Regions from separate parts of the Homo sapiens genome. Here region 2 is linked to region 1. Evidence: fine-mapped expression QTL. A gene starts in region 1. The other region holds a variant in brackets. All regions are shown on one strand. Distances are between the middles of the regions.

Region 1 (8,321 bases):
GCAGACAGCCAAGATCACACTACTGCACTCCAGCCTGGCAACAGGGTGAGACCTTGTCTCAAGGAAAACAACAACACAAACTGCAGCTCATTCTTTCTAAAGGTATCTGGAAAATGACAGAACTGAGAATAACATCCAGATTCAGTTCCCTGCCATGAGAAGTTCCTTTTGCCTTGTTTGTGGATATTGTTGTCAGTTCATTGCAGCTGTCTTGAGTAACTTACAGAGGCTAATGTGACCAAAGAAAGATCCATCATCCCTTGTTGTTTTTCTAGTTAAAAGTCATAGCACAGGTTTCTGGTAACATACAAATGATAAGACACTGTCCATAATTCTAATTACAACAATTCAGTTTGTATAGTAATTTGGTACAGCATTAAAGGGGGTGATGCCCTCCTCCCATCTCATTTCCCTCCCTTTTTCCTATTTCACATTTATTCTTTTGTCTAAAAGACAGAAAATTGGTATGATTCTCATATGCCGCATAGAACGTGTAGCTCCATCACATCCCACAGCTTTCTAGAGGTCTTTGGGGTTGGAACACAAAGTTTAACTTCTGTTTCTGTTTTTCCTTGAATTCTTTTGTTTCCTGGCCCTTTTCCATCTTGCCGGTTCCCCTTATGTTACCCACTATCGTCCATGCTCTCCCTCTGTGTTGGTTGTCTCAAAACAGCATTCAGCGGAATTCATTGAGTGGGTGAATTCTGTGAAGTTGCCTTTTCTGGCAGTGCTGTTACTCAGTGATGCACAAACGTAGCATTTGCCCTTTGGTAGACAAAGATCTGTGTTTTTTTTTTTTTTGTTTGTTTGTTTCTTTGAGACGGAGTCTCGCTGTCACCCAGGCTGGAGTGCAGCGGGTTCAAGCGATTCTCCTACCTTAGCCTCCCGAGTAGCTGGGATTACAGGCGCCTGCCACCACGCCCGGCTAATTTTTGTATTTTTAGTAGAGATGGGGTTTCACCATGTTGGTCAGGCTGGTCTTGAACTCCTAACCTCAGGACCTCAGGCGATCCACCCACCTCGGCCTACCTAAGTGCTGGGAACAGGCTTGAACCACCGCGCCTGGCAGATCTGGTTAGTATTCTTCAAAGGAGCCAAAGGCAGTGCTTTCGTGTTTGCTTTGAGGGGAAGTAGTGGACGATTTGATTGTGACACCTTTTAGCATTGGTGAGTTGATTTATCTAAAATTAACTGTTAAAGTTAGCTGGCCTTATACAACGTAAAAGTAAAGAAAATTCATCAGTTTCTCAAAAAAAAAAAACAAAACAGTGGCTGAAGTTTTTGTTAGCAATAAGAAAACAGTAGGCATATATATATATATATACACTTTTTCTTTTTTCTGGGAATCCACGTTCTCCTCCTGGGTAAAGGAGAGGGTTGTATTTTGTGATTCCTTTTTCCTGCCCCAAGTGGCTGGCGATACAGCCCCCGGCGCGCCGGGCACTGAGGCCCTGGAGCACAGCGTGGGGGGCCTGGCACAGACACGACTCACGACCGGGCCGATCTCCGGCCAGAAAGAACTATGTTCCGGCCGCCCGGGTCGCGGGCCCGCGGTGCATCCCTGCAGGCCTCCATCCTGCCTCGGCAGAGGTCTGCAAGAATCCTGTGGGTGTCCCCCGGAGCGGGCAGAGGAGGAGCCCAGCGCCGAGGCCCAGGCGCGCCCCGCCCTCGCCCCTCCCCGTGCCCCTCCCCCGCTGCTCCCCTCCCAAAGGCCGAGACCTGGACGCTGCCCGGTGGCCTCGGCGGGGGCCCTGTCCTTGGCCGCTGCCTCTCTGAATCCCAGGTGAGAAGAATAAAACGTCCTGACGCTGTCCGGCTTCCGGTTCTTGGAGAGGACGGGCCGTCTCTGCCGAGAGAACTGTGCGGAATCAGGAAGCGCTGGTGCTCCTTCGCTTTCACGGGACTAAGCGAAATCCGGCTTTAAACGAAGTAAAGCCGGCTGCCTCCTGGAGTATTTTTGTCATAGTATTTTTATTTTGGGTCAGGGTATTCTGCTGCGGACCCTGAGTCTTAGGAAGGAGGCTTATAACAGCGGAAAGCCATTTTTTTTTAAGAATTGCTGAGTTTTCCGGATTGTACTTTCAAAGACTTTCCCTGAAACTTTGCGTGGCATGGGGGTTGCAGAAACTGGTGTCTACACATTACAAAAGTGTACTGTTTACACCTATTTGTGATGCACCCATCGTGTTTTTCTCCATGGACCACCTATTAAGCTTCCTGCTGGAGCGCTCTTGGCCCCCTTCCTGCTTTCTGGGCCACATCCTGTTGTAAATCGGTGCTACTTGTGGGGTTTTGTTTGTGAATTGGGGATATTTAAGGAACAATTTATTGAAACAACTGAAGAGTTTGTTTCCTCCTTTGGGTTTTACTTTTAAAATAAATTCGGTTAGGAAAAAGTATTCTTTTGCTAGTGGAGTTCAAATTCAAATACCCAGACTGTAGATTCTCCAAATGCCTTTCTCACCAGGGAGGGCAGCTCCCAGGAATAGTGACGGCAGGTAAGCTGGGATAAAGCTGACTTCGTCACCTTGTAGGTGGGGAAGGCCAGAGTGGATAGTCTGGCCAGGCCTCCACAGCCGAGCCAGCTTCTGCTGGGGGGCGGGGGAGATGAGAACGAGAGGCAGGTTCCAGTATCCTCTGGACTTGCAGGAAGGAAGGCATTCTGCGTATCGCTGAGCACTGCGGTGAGCTGAGTGAGGGTTCCCTTTCCTCATGTTTTCCTGCCTTTTTCTTCCTCTTGGTTCTCTTGTCCCTGAGCCGCCTTGTCCACTCTTTCTATTCCCTTAGTGCCTTTCCATCTATCTCTCCTGAGTGCCCAGCGTGAAACTGTACCCAAGAGTTAAAATCTCTTAAAAATCTCACCGTCTTGCAGAAACAAATTGTGGCTGGTTTAAAGATCCTCAGCTAAAGAGACTGGGCTGAGGTTCCCCCATACCAGTTGGATTTAGAGAGAGCCTCTTGTAGGGAGGCCTCATGTGGTCTTCACCTGGGCCTCAGCATGTGAGCCCTCCTTTAACAGAGAGCTTGCCCAAGATCTCACTGCTTGTTAAAGGTGGTCTCAACCCCGTCTGTCTTCTAAGCTTCCCACTACCCCATGTCTGAGAGCAAAAAGCCCTCTTTGCAACCTGAGATCACACTCAAGATGGAAGACTGTCAAGCCCATCCCTGCCAGATTCTATTAATGTGGTCCTAATGGGCCACACCAGCAAAAACAAGCTGCGTTGTATTCCTTTGAAGAAAACTAAGTCTGCCTCAGAAACTAGCAGACCCTGTAATCTTCAGCGGTATTATTAAAAAGCACACCTGCCTCAAAGCCCCTGGTTCATCCATGGAAGCATCGCAGAAGCCTCTGTATTAGGGGCAGCTTTACGGCACTCTGGGCCCCTTTTACTCTTGGCCAGGGCCAACGCCAAAGGCTAGATGGTCCATGCTTCCAGGTAGCGTATCACTGTTCACAGAAGCAGAAACAAGTAATGGGGCCACCTCCACCCCCCCCAGGTCCCTGCCCTCGGAGCAAGTGGCCAGTGCCCATGGTGCCTCGAGGCAACAGCTGCCCCTCCTGCCCCCTCCCAGTCTCTTTCCTGCAGTATCTGGGGACAGACAGGTGATAGAGTGTCACTCTAGTTACTATTGAGCGAACTGAAGAAAATCCACATGGAAGGTTGACATCTACCATACCTCACTTTCCCCTCTCTTGATAGTAAGTGTCTAATCTTTCCCTCCAACCCCTGTGGGCAAACATGTCCATGCGTTCTTTGAGTTCTAGCTACTGGTCAGTAGTTCTGAGTGTAGGATTGACATGGTGGGAGGAGGCAGAGCTTTGGGACCACACCGCCAAGGTCCCTGGGGCCTAGAGGTCCAGCGTGCCCGCCTCCCTTCCTCGCTGTGCTCCTTTCTCTCCCCCCCACCCCCACGCTCCTGGTTTCTGGAGCCGAGCTTGGGGTGGGGAGGCAGCAGGTAGGGTCTTCAAGTTGGAGAGAAACCCCGCCCACACCTGGACCTCGCCCCTCGCTGCCATTCCCAGCCGAGGCCGTCAGGGGCCTGCGTTTTGAGAAACACAATCTGGAAGAGAAAACCTGGGCCTTTTCTTCTTTTATCCCCTGTCCCCGCCCCCCTACACCTCTTACAAATTTAGCCCAGGAGCTTTCTATCCCCACCGACTTGAAGGGTTTATCGGTCTTAAGAGCGAAATCCTGGCGGAGTGCAGTCCCTCGGGGCTAGCATCCACGTTCCGCCTGCGCCCTGCCCGGGCTGTTCCGAGGGATCCCCGCAAGGGCACTGCCCCAGCTTTCACTCTTGGAGTCGGGGAAATAAGGTGTCCACAAAGGATGCAAGCAAGTCATTGTCAGTGCAGACCCGAAGGGCGCGTCCGGAGTGCAGGTATGAAAGACGGGCGCATGCGCGCAGTCCGGGGCCGGGCTTCGCAGCCCGGGCTCCGCTCTAGCCCCGCAGCGTCTCGGTGGCCGGTCTCGTCCTCCGCCCGCCGCGCGGGGGCGCCGCTCTAGCCCCGCGCCATCTCGGTGGCCGTCCGCCCACTCCGCGGCGTTCGGGGAAATGGCTGCGAGACCCTAGAGGCCTGCGGCCTGCGGTAAGTGGCGTCCCGGGCGCCGGGTAGAAGAGCCGGCCGCCGCTTGGGCCGCCCTCGGGAGCGGGGCGGGGCCGGCATCGGAGCCCGGCTGGCGAGAGCCGCGGATCCCGCACAGGCCGCTCCCGCCGAGAAGATGGCGGCCGCGGAAGGGAAGGAGCGGGCGGGCGGGCGGGCGAGCGGGCGGGGCCGGTCAGAGCCGCCGCGGCCTGGGGCGCGGGCCTCAGACGCCGGCCCTGGTGGGCTGCGTGAGGTCGAGGGGACTGGCGAGCACTCGGTGGTCGCGGCTGGAACGGTTCCGAGGGTGGGAGTCGGGGCGGCCGCTCGCGGGGAAGAGCGCAGGGCTGGCCTGGGCGAGTGCGGCCCGGGGCTCGGGGGCTGCGTAGCTGGCTTGTAAGCGCAGCTGGTTTCCCTAGGCATTCTCGGGGACCTCGGCGCTTCCTCCCGGGCCTTGGGTGCGGTCGGGGTGGCCGGCTTAGCTTCTGGCGTGCCTTCGGGGGATTCCGGCACTGCAGGGGCGGCTGGCGCTGCAGGAAGCGCGAAGAGCCCGGATTCGCTTTTCTGAAGAGTGTGTCCTTACCTCCCCGCGCTGGTTTTCAGTTTTTTTGTGGAATAGTTTGTTGCGTTGGTTTGTACTGGCCGTATTTGTGACACATTTTGCCTTCCAGTGACCCCGGAAGCCGAAAGGGCCCGCTCTTGCGCTCGGCGGGAGGGGTGCTCGTGCTGCCTCCGCTGCGGCGTCCGGGGCTCCTTCTCGCGGTTCTGAGACAGTGGAGGTCAAGGCCGGCTTTTCTGCTCTAAATAAAGGACTTTAATATATAAGTTTAGAGTTTGGGCCACAGGTAGCAGTAGCTTACTGCGTTACCAGTTATTGAAAATACTCTTTAACTTGTGCCTGGGCCTTCGATATCCGTGTCATCTGTCTGCTGATGGAATGAGATTTGAGCCTAGTGTACTCAGGGACTTAGAGGAGGGAAAGGCAGATGGGAACGTCTTTTCGGTATATTCACATAACTTTGCTATATACCCCGTGTTCCATGGTTTCCGTAGGGCCACATATGACTTGGTTGAAATACAGTTCTGAGAAAGGTCCTTAGCAGTGCCTTTTAAGGAGTAAATACAGTCTTTTTTTAAATGAGCATTCATTGCTTACTGTTAGCACGAGGGATACAGCAGTGACCAAGGTGGCCCCTGTCCCAGTCCTGGAGACAAGTTCACTGGGGAACTTGAGAGATTATTCCAGCTCCTTCCTTTAAATCAGGTGTTGCCAACTCGTTTACCTGGAGCCTAGGGCTCTTTAGTGGCCCTTTGGGTTGCTGTTAGTGTATGTGTGTCTGTGACTATTTCACTATTTTAAATACGGCATAGACATCTCAGAAGTGTCACCCAGGAAGACAGACACAGCCCTGTTGTGAAACTCCCTGCTTAATGCACACTTGTTTTCCTACTTGCTGTGTACATGGGGAGGAGATGTCTGTTCTTGTAGACTTGTTTCAGCAAGTTTCATAAGATACCTCTTGTTTTGGAAAAGCGCGTATCTTGAATTTTTTCAGGCTTTCCACCAGAGGCTGTCCCTTATTAGTAGTTGATTGAATTCAGACTATGTCAAGCAGAGCTCATTGTGCTGTGGTGAGAAGACAGGGCACAAATAAGATAATTTGTGATTGACTGCCCAGCCGTACCCATGGTTACCAGACAGCCCAGCCCATGTTGCATGTGCATATGTGAGCCTCGCAAAGGCTTGTCTAGGACGTGCGGATCATCGGTTGGGCCTTGGAGGGTGCTGGGGTTTCTTCATGTAAGGAGGAAATGATTGGAATGGGCATTGGCTCCCGTTTTGTTCGCGGTGAAGTTGGCAGGTTCTGCTGTTGATACTGTGAGTTTTTCTACAGCCTTAGGGTCATAATTCCCTTAAGGTCAGTTCTGTGGAGCCCAGTAGGGTGCTTCTCTTCAGTGTTTATTTTTAAGCTGTGCCACGTCTTCATTGTTTGGAATCTCTGTAAACAAGACACGTTTTTCCTTTTTATATGCCTGTCCCATAATACCAAGTGGCTTATTTGGCTCTTGAAGAGCTAAGATTGAAAGTGTTTAACAGGTGACTCCCTACTATCTGTGGGTCCCTGCACTGTGCCCTTGCCTGAGAGGTCTCATCTCTCTGGCAGGCTCAGAAGACCACTAGAAAATTCTCTCTAAACAGAGTCTCTCACTTACATTTCTTATTTAAATGACGGGGTCCCTTACAGTGGATACTAAGATCAGCCTTTTTATGACTACTATCAAATGATGTGTGTTAATTGCATTACAAAAGTTCTATAATTAACAGTTAATGGAAATGTACTAATTGGGAAAGAGGAGGTCAAAGAACAAAGTCCAGTTTGCTCATTTCATGTACGTGTACACAGTCATCTGTGAGACAGTCTGTGTTGTCTAGGCCTCATTTTATTTTTTGAGTAGTAATTTTGAGGTTAAGTTGTTATATGAAGTTGAATAGGTAATTGTACATATTTTAATAAGAATTCTGTAACCATGTCCATAAAACTTAATAGGCGGTTGTAATCGTGTGTAAGTTGTAAAGGAGGCATTTCTCTCCTTGGGTATCAAATTTTGATGCCGTGGTTTTGTTTTGCGTATGCTGATATAGACATTTAAGTGGTACTTAATATACCTTTATAATAAGGTAAATCAACTTTTTTTCCAAAATGAAGATACCTTAATGTGTTTGATTACAAAAGTAATACACATACAGGAAACTTAAACATTATGTAAAAATAGAAAGTAAAGACACTAGAAAGGGTGCTGTCCAGAAAAGCTCCACGTTACAGCTGTTTTGCACTAGTGAACGGGATGCGTTGGAGGCTGTGGCCACTGCCCTGGCCGGCTTGTCTGCGGCTCTCACTCAGGTGCCAGGGAGTTTTTCTCACGGCTGTGCATGTGATGATTCATCACCCTTAAAGAATTCCCGGCCGGGCATGGTGGGTCGTGCCTGGAATCCCAGCACTTTGGGAGGCCAAGATGGGTGGATCACTTGTCAGGAGTTCAAGACCAGCCTGGCCAATATGGTGAAACCCCATCTCTAACTAAAAATACAAAAATTAGCTGGGTGTGGTGGTACGTGCCTGTAATCCCAGCTACTTGGGAGGCCGAGGTGGGAGAATCGCTTGAACCTGGGAGGTCGAGGTTGCAGTGAGCCGAGACCGCACCACTGCACTCCAGCCTGGGCGACAGTGAGACTCTGTCTCAAAAAAAAAATAATAATAATTAGGCCAAGCATGCTGATGTGCTCCTGTAGTCCCAGCACTTTGGGAGGCTGAGGCCAGAGGCCAGAGGACCCCTTGAAGCCAGGAGTTCCAGGCTGTAGTGAGCCGTGGTTCTGCTACTGCTCTCCAGCCTGGGTGACAGAGCAAGACTCTGTCCACCCCCCACCCCCAACAAAAAGAATTTCACTATATAGATGTTTCTTGATTTTTCAAACTGGTCTGTTAGTTTGTGTTCAGTTTGTCACCTTTGTGAGAAAAAAAACACTCATAAGTTAGTGTGTACTTCCTACTTAATTTCTCCTGGGTCATCGTGAAGCACTCCCTGCCCTCCATGAGAACAGTATGTCACCCGCTCTCTTCCCTGTGCCAAGCCCATAAAGGGCTGTTGGCAAATATGTCGGACAAATAGACTCGCCTAAGAGGGCCTTTCTCTCCAAGCCCTCGCCAGCACAGGCTGTGTCACTTTCTTAGGTGGCACC
Region 2 (8,321 bases), 52 kb after region 1:
TACAAATGCATCTTTCTTTTGTCATAAAATTGGAATTACAATTTTCAACTGGGAAACAGAAACACATTTCTTAGCGTGCTCAGATTTTATATATCACCTTATCAATTTTTTCCAAAACATGATTTAAAGCAACATCTGTCCTAGTATAATTGTTGCATTTTAAATAACAATTTATTGAAAAATGTTAAGTTTTACCAGCCTAAAAAAAGTAACAAACCAATTAAGTGTACTTTGGGGGCAGGGAGGAGTCCTTGATTTGAATAATCAGGAGTTTTGTTGGTCCAGTTTCGCCTTCTGAGCAGTTCTTCTGTATCCCGGGAAAAGTACGCTCGGCCCCAAACTGGTATTTGTCAGACGATACATGTAAAAGTTTGTCCTTGAACGTGGAACAAGACTTGTGTAAAGTCTGAGACGGGAACTAGTGATCACTAGCTCAAGAACTGCAAATGAGACAGGAAGCTGTTCACTGTGAAACAGTCTCTTGCTTGTCGTGTATTTTTCGAGTACTTCTGAAGTGTGAAGTAAAAAAATCTGGCTAATTTATTTGTACAAATACACTTTGATAATTTTTTATATTTTCATAAACTTTTACAGATGTAAAATTAAAGAACTTCACTTGTTCTTTGGAGTCTGTTATTCCATTGTACGTCACTACAGATTTTTCACTTTATAGCACAGATTTTTTAAGTTAAGAAAACATTGAGAATGTATCAGTTTGAGATGTTTGGTGTTGAAAGCCAAGTGTCCATAGGTTAAATTACATTAAAGTAGGTGTCACGTTCCAACATCTAGTACGATGAGAAGGTTTTGTTTGTTTAACATATAAAGCAAATTTTTCTAATTTAAATACACAAATGTAAAAATCAAGTGTGTTTCTTTAGTTTACTTGATAGAGATTCCTGTACATTGTATTTTATATTGCGGAGGCTTATATCACTGTACATGAGAACATGGAACGACCTAGGTTTTGTTACTCGCAGTAGAATAAACAGCTACAGGAAGTTTCTGTCTCGGGTCTTCATCAGCCTTTTTCTAACGCGGAGAAGTTTGGGGTCGTGCACGGACGCCCTGGCCACCCAGTTTCTTGTTGCTGGTTTGCCTGGGCGTGGGCAGGAGTGCCCTTTGGACCCCTCCCTGAACTCATGCTGAGCCCAGGGTGAGACCGGCCGGGTGCGGGTCCCCACATCCTTCCGTCACGGGGCAGCTGTCTCGCTCCCTGTGGGGACCCAGCACCATCCAGCTCTGGAGACGATGGGCAGGAAGGTCGGGAGGAGGGACTCACCCCCTTCAGACCCTCTCCTGGGGCTGAGTGGGAGCCCGAGACCACTGCAACAGCCTCAACTGCGGTGAAGGAGTCTCATGGTTGGGGAGTGAGCCCCGAGGCCCCAGCCCATCCAGGCTGCAGCAGAGTGTGCACCCGCCGACTGCGGGGCGTGCTGCTGCTGAGGATGCAGGTGGGCAGGTGGGCTTGGCGGCCCAGACCCAGCAGTGCCAGTGGAGGAGACGCGGTGGCCCACGTGCCTGCACACAGCGCGGCTGCAGGGACAGGCTCGGGGAGCTGGCGCCTGGCCTGCGAGCTTCCTCTGGTCGCCTGTGGGCCAGAGCTTGGCTTCCGAACAAGCGTATGGGTCCACAGCCCAGCCATGAGCAGACGCCGGTGGGACGTTCCCGCGCAGACCGGTGCAGGCCCCTTGGCCAAGTGTCTGGTGGGGCAGCAACAGCTCTGAGCAGCCTCCTCCAACAGCTCCAGACCGTGACCTGTGCAGCCAAAGGGCTCACTGTGGAAACATGGCGAGGAAGACCTAGCTCCAGTATGCCCCTGGGGTCGGCCGCGTCCCGGTCAGCCACACCAAGCAGGAAAAGGCCCAGGCCCCGGAGCCCTGGCACCCACAGGCCCACAAGGCACCACAGGGTCACTGAGCTGTAGCTCCCTGTTCTAGCACAGAGGCCGAGGCAGCTGTCGGGGGAAAATGGAAAGAGCCATCTCACTCGAGAACTCGGCACGGGGGCCTCCAACGGGGGGTAACACCCAAAGCAGCCAGCACCCTCCCCACACCAGGCATCAGCGAGTCCCAGGGAGGAGGCGGCAGTGGGGATCGTGGCTGTGGCTGAGCTCAGGGGGCCTAACCAGAAGGGGAGAAAAGGAAAGACCACATGAGACATGCCCAGACGGACAGTGACCTCAGCCCTCAGTGGCAGGGCAGCGCCAGTGAACAGGCTGAGCCAGGGCGAGACTGGCTGGGTGCAGGTCCCCACATGCTGGGTCCGTCTTCCTGTGGGACACCTAGCAAAAGGGAGAAGAACCAAGCCTGCCCAAAACGTCACACCCAGCAGTCACTGCTGTCGTTAATTTGGTATTTTCCTTAATCTTTTTCTCTCTGCATCTAAATTTTGACAAAATCGGGGTCCCTCCAGGAGCACGCTGTGGCCTGGGGTTTGCTCCTCCTCCTCCGGCTGCTCTGCTGCTCCCAGCCGACCTCACTCCAGGGCTCAGGGGACCATGTGGGGACCCTGCCATTGGCTGAGTATGTCTGTTCCACAGGAGGCCGGGAGGCTCACTGGGCCTCCTCAGAGGAAAACCTGAACCAACTCCGTCGTCCGCCTCCATAAACCACAGCTCTGCCTGGCATCTGGGCCTCCTGAAATGAATGTCCTTTCAGCTCCAGGGTCTAGTAATTCCTAAAAGGCCTGATTATTTCCCATTCCCGTTGCACAGACTCCTGATAAACAGAGGAAGATTCCTTTGGGAAGGGGCGGTGGGAAGATTAGCTGCATGTTTTTGGCATTTAGCAGGGCCCCTTCCTCTCGGAGACTCAGTCTGTCCTTCATTCCAGGGGCCTGGGTCTGTCCAGAGTCTGGAACTTGGCCGAGGGCCCCGGACTCTGTGTTGGGGCTTCCAGTCAGAGCGCAGGACTCCTGCTCTCGGACCTACAGCCTTTCTGCCAGCACAGAACGGGGACGCCTTTGGCAGGATGTCCTTTTTTTTCAGTTCTAGGGAAGCTGCGCCCATCAGGCAACGCAGGAACTATGTGGGTCAGATGACTGCGCCTCTGCTGCCGCTCACGGCTGTGCTGGGAATCACGTCCGGCAGGATAGCTCCCGCCAGCCCAGAGCGCCACCATCCCCACTGCATTGGGAGCCCAGCTGCATGGCAGCAGTTCCCGCCGCAGTTTTTCGCCTACAGAAAAGAATGATCATGGAGCTCTTCCCCGATGTGGGTGTGGGTGCGGTGTGGGTGAGGGTGCCAGTGAGGGTGCGGTGCGAGTGAGGGTGCGGGTGAGGGTGGGGGTGGGGGTGAGGGTGGGGGTGAGGGTGGGGGTGAGGGTGGGGGTGCGGGTGAGGGTGGGGGTGCGGGTGCGAGTGGGGGTGCGGGTGAGGGTGGGGGTGGGGGTGAGGGTGGGGGTGAGGGTGGGGGTGAGGGTGGGGGTGCGGGTGAGGGTGGGGGTGCGGGTGCGGGTGGGGGGGAGGGTGGGGGTGGGGGTGCGGGTGGGGGTGGGGGTGGGGGTGGGGGTGGGGGTGAGGGTGCAGGTGAGGGTGCGGGGCTCCCCGATGAATTCACTCCTCACAATCCTCGTGAAGGGGTGACCTCCAAGCCCTAAGGACATCAAGCTGGTCTTGCACGATAAATCCATCCCAGCGTTCTGCCGTCCTCTCCAGTGTGCCAGGAAAGTTCTGGATTTCACTGAATTTAGGGTCAGCTACCTGTGGGGCGAAAGTTTCGGTGACTGATGAAGAAAATGGGGGTGGGGGGTGGGTCACTCCCAGCCGTTCCCTCCAACGCATCAAATCCAGAATCTCGTATCTGAGTCCCTGTCCACTTACGCAAGCTTATATTCCTCCCACCCAGATCCCGCACTCTCAACATCGATTTCCACACATTTTCCGCAGGTTTTCGTAGGGAAACATATTTGTAGGCCACACCTCACACTTTCTCTTTTGGGGCCTGCTGGAACTCCAGTCTGGATCTAGGTCTAGAAGGAACACAGAGGTGGTGGTGAGTCCCGGGCAGGACGGCGGCACCTTACAGGGCAGCTCCCTAGGGAAGGCACTTGAGGGTCTTTGGGCAAAGGGGTCTCAGCTCCCCAGGCAGTGGCAGAAGAGCCACATGTGCCTTCAAAGACGACCTGCGGAGTTCACCGGCAGATCCCAATGGACTTGCAGGGCTCGTGGTCCTCAGCTTCACTGGGATCTTCCCACATGCCCCTGTAGGGACCAGCCCCACAGGGTCGGTGGGCTTCTCCCTGTGTGTGGTGACGAGAGAGTGTAAAAATAAAGACACAAGACAAAGAGATAAAAGAAAAGACAGCTGGGCCCGGGGAACCACTACCACCAATGCGCAGAGACCGGTAGTGGCTCCGAATGTCTGGCTGCATTGTTATTTATTGGATACAAAGCAAAAGGGGCAGGGTAAGGAGTGTGAGTCATCTCCAGTGATAGGTAAGGTCACGTGGGTCACGTGTCCACTGGACAGGGGGCCCTCCCCTGCCTGGCAGCCAAGGCAGAGACAGAGAGGGAGAGACAGAGACCGCTTACGCCATTATTTCTGCTTATCAGAGACTTTCAGTACTTTCACTAATTTGCTGCTGCTATCTAGAAGGCAGAGCCAGGTGCACAGGATGGAACATGAAGGCGGACTAGGAGCGTGACCACTGAAGCACAGCATCACAGGGAGACGGTTAGGCCTCCGGATAACTGCGGGCGGGCCTGACTGATGTCAGGCCCTCCGCAAGAGGTGGAGGAGTAGAGTCTTCTCTAAACTCCCCCGGGGAAAGGGAGACTCCCTTTCCCCGTCTGCTAAGTAGCGGGTGTTTTTCCGTGACACTGAGGCTACCGCTAGACCACGGTCCGTCTGGCAACGGGCGTCTTCCCAGACGCTGGCGTCACCGCTAGACCAAGGAGCCCTCTGGTGGCCCTGTCCGGGCGTAACAGAAGGTTCACACTCTTGTCTTCTGGTCACTTCTCACCATGTCCCCTCAGCTCCTGTCTCT[GTA/A]TGGCCTGGTTTTTCCTAGATTATGATTATAGAGCAAGCATTATAAAGAGTAATTGCTACAAACTAATGATGAAAGATATTCATATATAATCATGTCTATGATCTGTATCTGGTATAACTCTTGTTGTTTTATATATTTTATTACACTGGAACAGCTCGTGCCCTCGGTCTCTTGCCTCGGCACCTGGGTGGCTTGCCGCCCACATGCCCCCATTGCAACGTCAGGTTCCCATTCTTTCCCAACTTCCCTAACTTTAACAAAAGAGGCACTGCAAAGTCGAAACTGCAGTTTAGGCTGTAATTAAATCATCCAGGAGACTAGGCTTCAGGTTTGCTTTGCAGAAATCTCAGCCCCATGGCTACAGGAGATAAGGACTTACTTTAAGGCAGTCATAGAGGCTTTCAGGTTCCTTTTTCAGACTCCAAGCCAGGCATTTAAAGCATCGAGAGCTGGAGCTGCTGTGTCCATCACCAGCAGGTCCTCGTCCTGCTAATTCCTGTCTACAGCTTCACCAGCACATGGGCCAGTGAGATGTCCCTGCCTCCCTCTTTCTTCCTCAGTTCTTTCTCTTCCCCCTTGTTCAATTTGCCTGGAAGCATGAAAGAAGAAAGCACAGGGCCCCCCAAGCCCCTCTGCTTCTGCCCATCACAAGTGCCACGAACCCATGGTCCCCGCCATCTCCTCTCTCTTCTCCCGCCTCTTCAGCAAGAAGCAGATGCACATTTGGACGGTTCGATTGGATGCTGCCTATACATTGTGTATAAACTGAAGTTAGGGGAGGTACTCACCACAGTTCCTGCCATTGGTTTTAACATGGAAAGAGTAGAATATAAGAACACTTGTTTTGGGCCAGGCACGGTAGCTCATGCCTATAATCCCAGCACTTTGGGAGGCCGAGGCAGGCAGATCACAAGGTCAGGAGTTCAAGACCAGCCTGGCCAATATGGTGGAACCCTGTCTCTACTAAATATACAAAAATTAGCCAGGCATAGTGGTGGGCTCCTGTAATCCCAGCTACTCGGGAGGCCGAGGCAGGAGAATTGCTTGAACCCGGGAGGTGGAAGTTGTAGTGAGCTGAGATTGCGCCATTGCACTCCAGCCTGGATGACAGAGCGAGACTCTGACTCAAAAAGAGAACACTTGTTTCATGGTGTGGGATGTTCATGGTCAAGATGTAATTAGGCTTCTCTGGAAGCATTACTTCCAGAATACCCAGGGTTTTCTTTTGCTGGTAGATAGCAACGATCATGAAAGAATTCGGGAAGTGGCGGACGCGCTGCAGAAAAGGCTTCTGGCCGGTGAGTGTGGAGACGCAGCGCCACTGCTCTCTGCAAACAAACAGGGTTTGCCCAGCGCTCGGGCCATCAGTGTGACGACAGATGAGCCAGCCAGCTCTTCAGTCTCTTCCTAACAGGACATGGTATGTTCAAGCCACTTGTGCAACACGGAGCTGGTGTAGATGAGGGACTTGACTGGCTGTCAAATGAGTTTTCAAAACGTTAAATGAAACTAGACATCTAACCAAAGACATGTTTGATAAAATTGGTCTAGACTTGCTACAGCAAAATTTGTTTGTATCTTGGTTAAGAAACAGCATCTGGGACTGGCTTGGGCAGAATAATAAACTTATTTTGTTGCCAATTATTGTTTGCCAAATATAATGTTGTTATTTAGCAATGTGCTTGGTTTTAAAGAAATTCTTCTTGGGAAAAAGGTGTCCTCATTTACTTCCCATGAGCCTAAAGCCTGGACATAGTTATTGTAAAACCTTTAAATAAATCCACCTTGGAAGTTAAGATACATAAAAATAAATAAGGTGGGGCGTGGTGGCTCACGCCTGTGGGAGCACTGTCTGTGAGGAGGTGAATCCCTTGAGCTTGTTGGAGACAAGGCTGGGCAACATGGTGAACCTTGCCTCTATTTAAAAAAAAAAAAAAAAAAAGGCCGTGCACGGTGGCTCATGCCTGTAATCCCAGCATTTTGGGAGGCCGAGGCGGGGGGATCATGAGGTCAGGAGATCGAGACCATCCTGGCTCACATGGTGAAACCCCAAACCCCGTCTCTACTAAAAAAATTAGCTGGGCATGGTGGCACGTGCCTGTAATCCCAGCTACTCGGGAGGCTGAGGCAGAAGAATCGCTTGAACCCAGGAGGCGGACGTTGCAGTGAACCAACATCGTGCCACCGTACTCCAGCCTGGGTGACAGAGACTCCATCTAAAAAGAAAAAAAAAGAAAAAAAAAATTCGGCTGGGCACGGTGATTCACACCTGTAATCCCAGCACTTTGGGAGGCCGAGGCAGGCAGATCACTTGAGGTCAGGAGCTCGAGACCAGCCTGGCCAACATGGTGAAACCCTGTCTCTACCAGAAAAATACAAAAAATAGCCAGGCATCGTGGCATGTGCCTGTAATCCCAGCTGCTTGGGTGGCTGAGGTAGGAGAATCGTTTGAACCCAGGAGGCAGAGGTGGCAGTGAGCCGAGATCGCACCACTGCACTCCAGCCTGGGTGACAGAGCAAGACTCCGCCTCAAAAACAAACAAATAAATAAATAAATAAATAAATAAAATAAAGCACTGACTCACCATTTTCTTTTCCCAGATTATCCAGAGCACTTGGGCAAAAGCCTCCACCCCATTTTTACTAGAATGTTCAATGGCAGCCTTGGTTCCAGAGGCACTTGGTTGAATTTTGCCCATTGATGCTCATTTGCATGAATTATCAGCGCCTCTTTCCCGTGAGAAACGGTTACCAATGCTTTTAAATCAAAGGCAATCAAAGATCCAGCTCCAGAAAACCCAGAACCAGCTTTGATCACTCCACATCACGGAACAGAAAAATCAATTGGCCCAGGAGTCCAAGAAGCTACAGGAGGATGAGAGGAAGGGGAGCAGTTGCCGGCAGGCCTGGTGACCCTGCCCTGCTCAACCTTCCAAGAATTTGAGAGAGAAAGAAAGAAAAAAAACCCTGCTTGCTGCGGTCTGAGTTTGTATCCCTCCAAGATTCATACTGAAACCTAATCTGCACTGTGGTGGCATTAAGAAGAGGGGTCTTTAAAACAATGGCCGGGTGCGGTGGCTCACGCCTGTAATCCCAGCACTTTGGGAGGCCGAGGCGGGCGGGTCACCTGAGGTCAGGAGTTCAAGACCAGCCTGACCAACATGGTGAAACCCTGTCTCTACTGAAAATACAAAACTATTAGCCAGGCGTGGTGGCACGTGCCTGTAATCCCAGCTACTCAGGAGGCTGAGGCAGAAGAATTGCTTGAACCCGGGAGGCAGACGTTGCAGTGAACCGAGATCATGCCATTGCACCCCAGCCTGGGCAATA

Direction of the effects. Alleles are on the strand shown, and positions count from the first base shown. SD is a standard deviation of normalised expression in the study named.
For the expression in gastroesophageal junction of the gene that starts at base 4,515 in region 1, allele A in region 2 goes with a lower level than allele GTA (small effect, 0.27 SD a copy in GTEx).

The links. PIP is the estimated chance that this variant, and not a neighbour inherited with it, causes the effect.
Region 2: its variant is the best candidate, but not a certain one, in a credible set for the expression of DIDO1 in gastroesophageal junction (GTEx, PIP 0.65).

The regions. Positions count from the first base shown.
Region 1 is chr20:62,922,699-62,931,019 of GRCh38, reverse strand. DIDO1 (death inducer-obliterator 1) reads left to right here and starts at 4,515. Exons shown (of 16, transcript NM_001193369.2): 1 at 4,515-4,581. RefSeq lists silencers at 1,635-1,684, 4,328-4,767, 4,838-4,927 and enhancers at 1,815-1,904, 2,681-3,529, 4,412-5,025, 5,368-5,417, 5,026-5,639 and 1 more.
Region 2 is chr20:62,870,423-62,878,743 of GRCh38, reverse strand. DIDO1 (death inducer-obliterator 1) reads left to right here. Exons shown (of 16, transcript NM_001193369.2): 16 at 1-1,001. LOC105372717 (a long non-coding RNA gene) reads right to left here. Exons shown (of 4, transcript XR_936989.4): 2 at 3,823-3,971; 3 at 3,567-3,702; 4 at 1-1,957. It also overlaps the pseudogene ARF4P2. Among named protein-coding and RNA genes, the nearest start is that of SNORA117, 8.3 kb to the left of the region's middle. RefSeq lists enhancers at 2,102-2,755, 2,756-3,410. The variant GTA/A (reference allele first, on the strand shown) is at 4,989.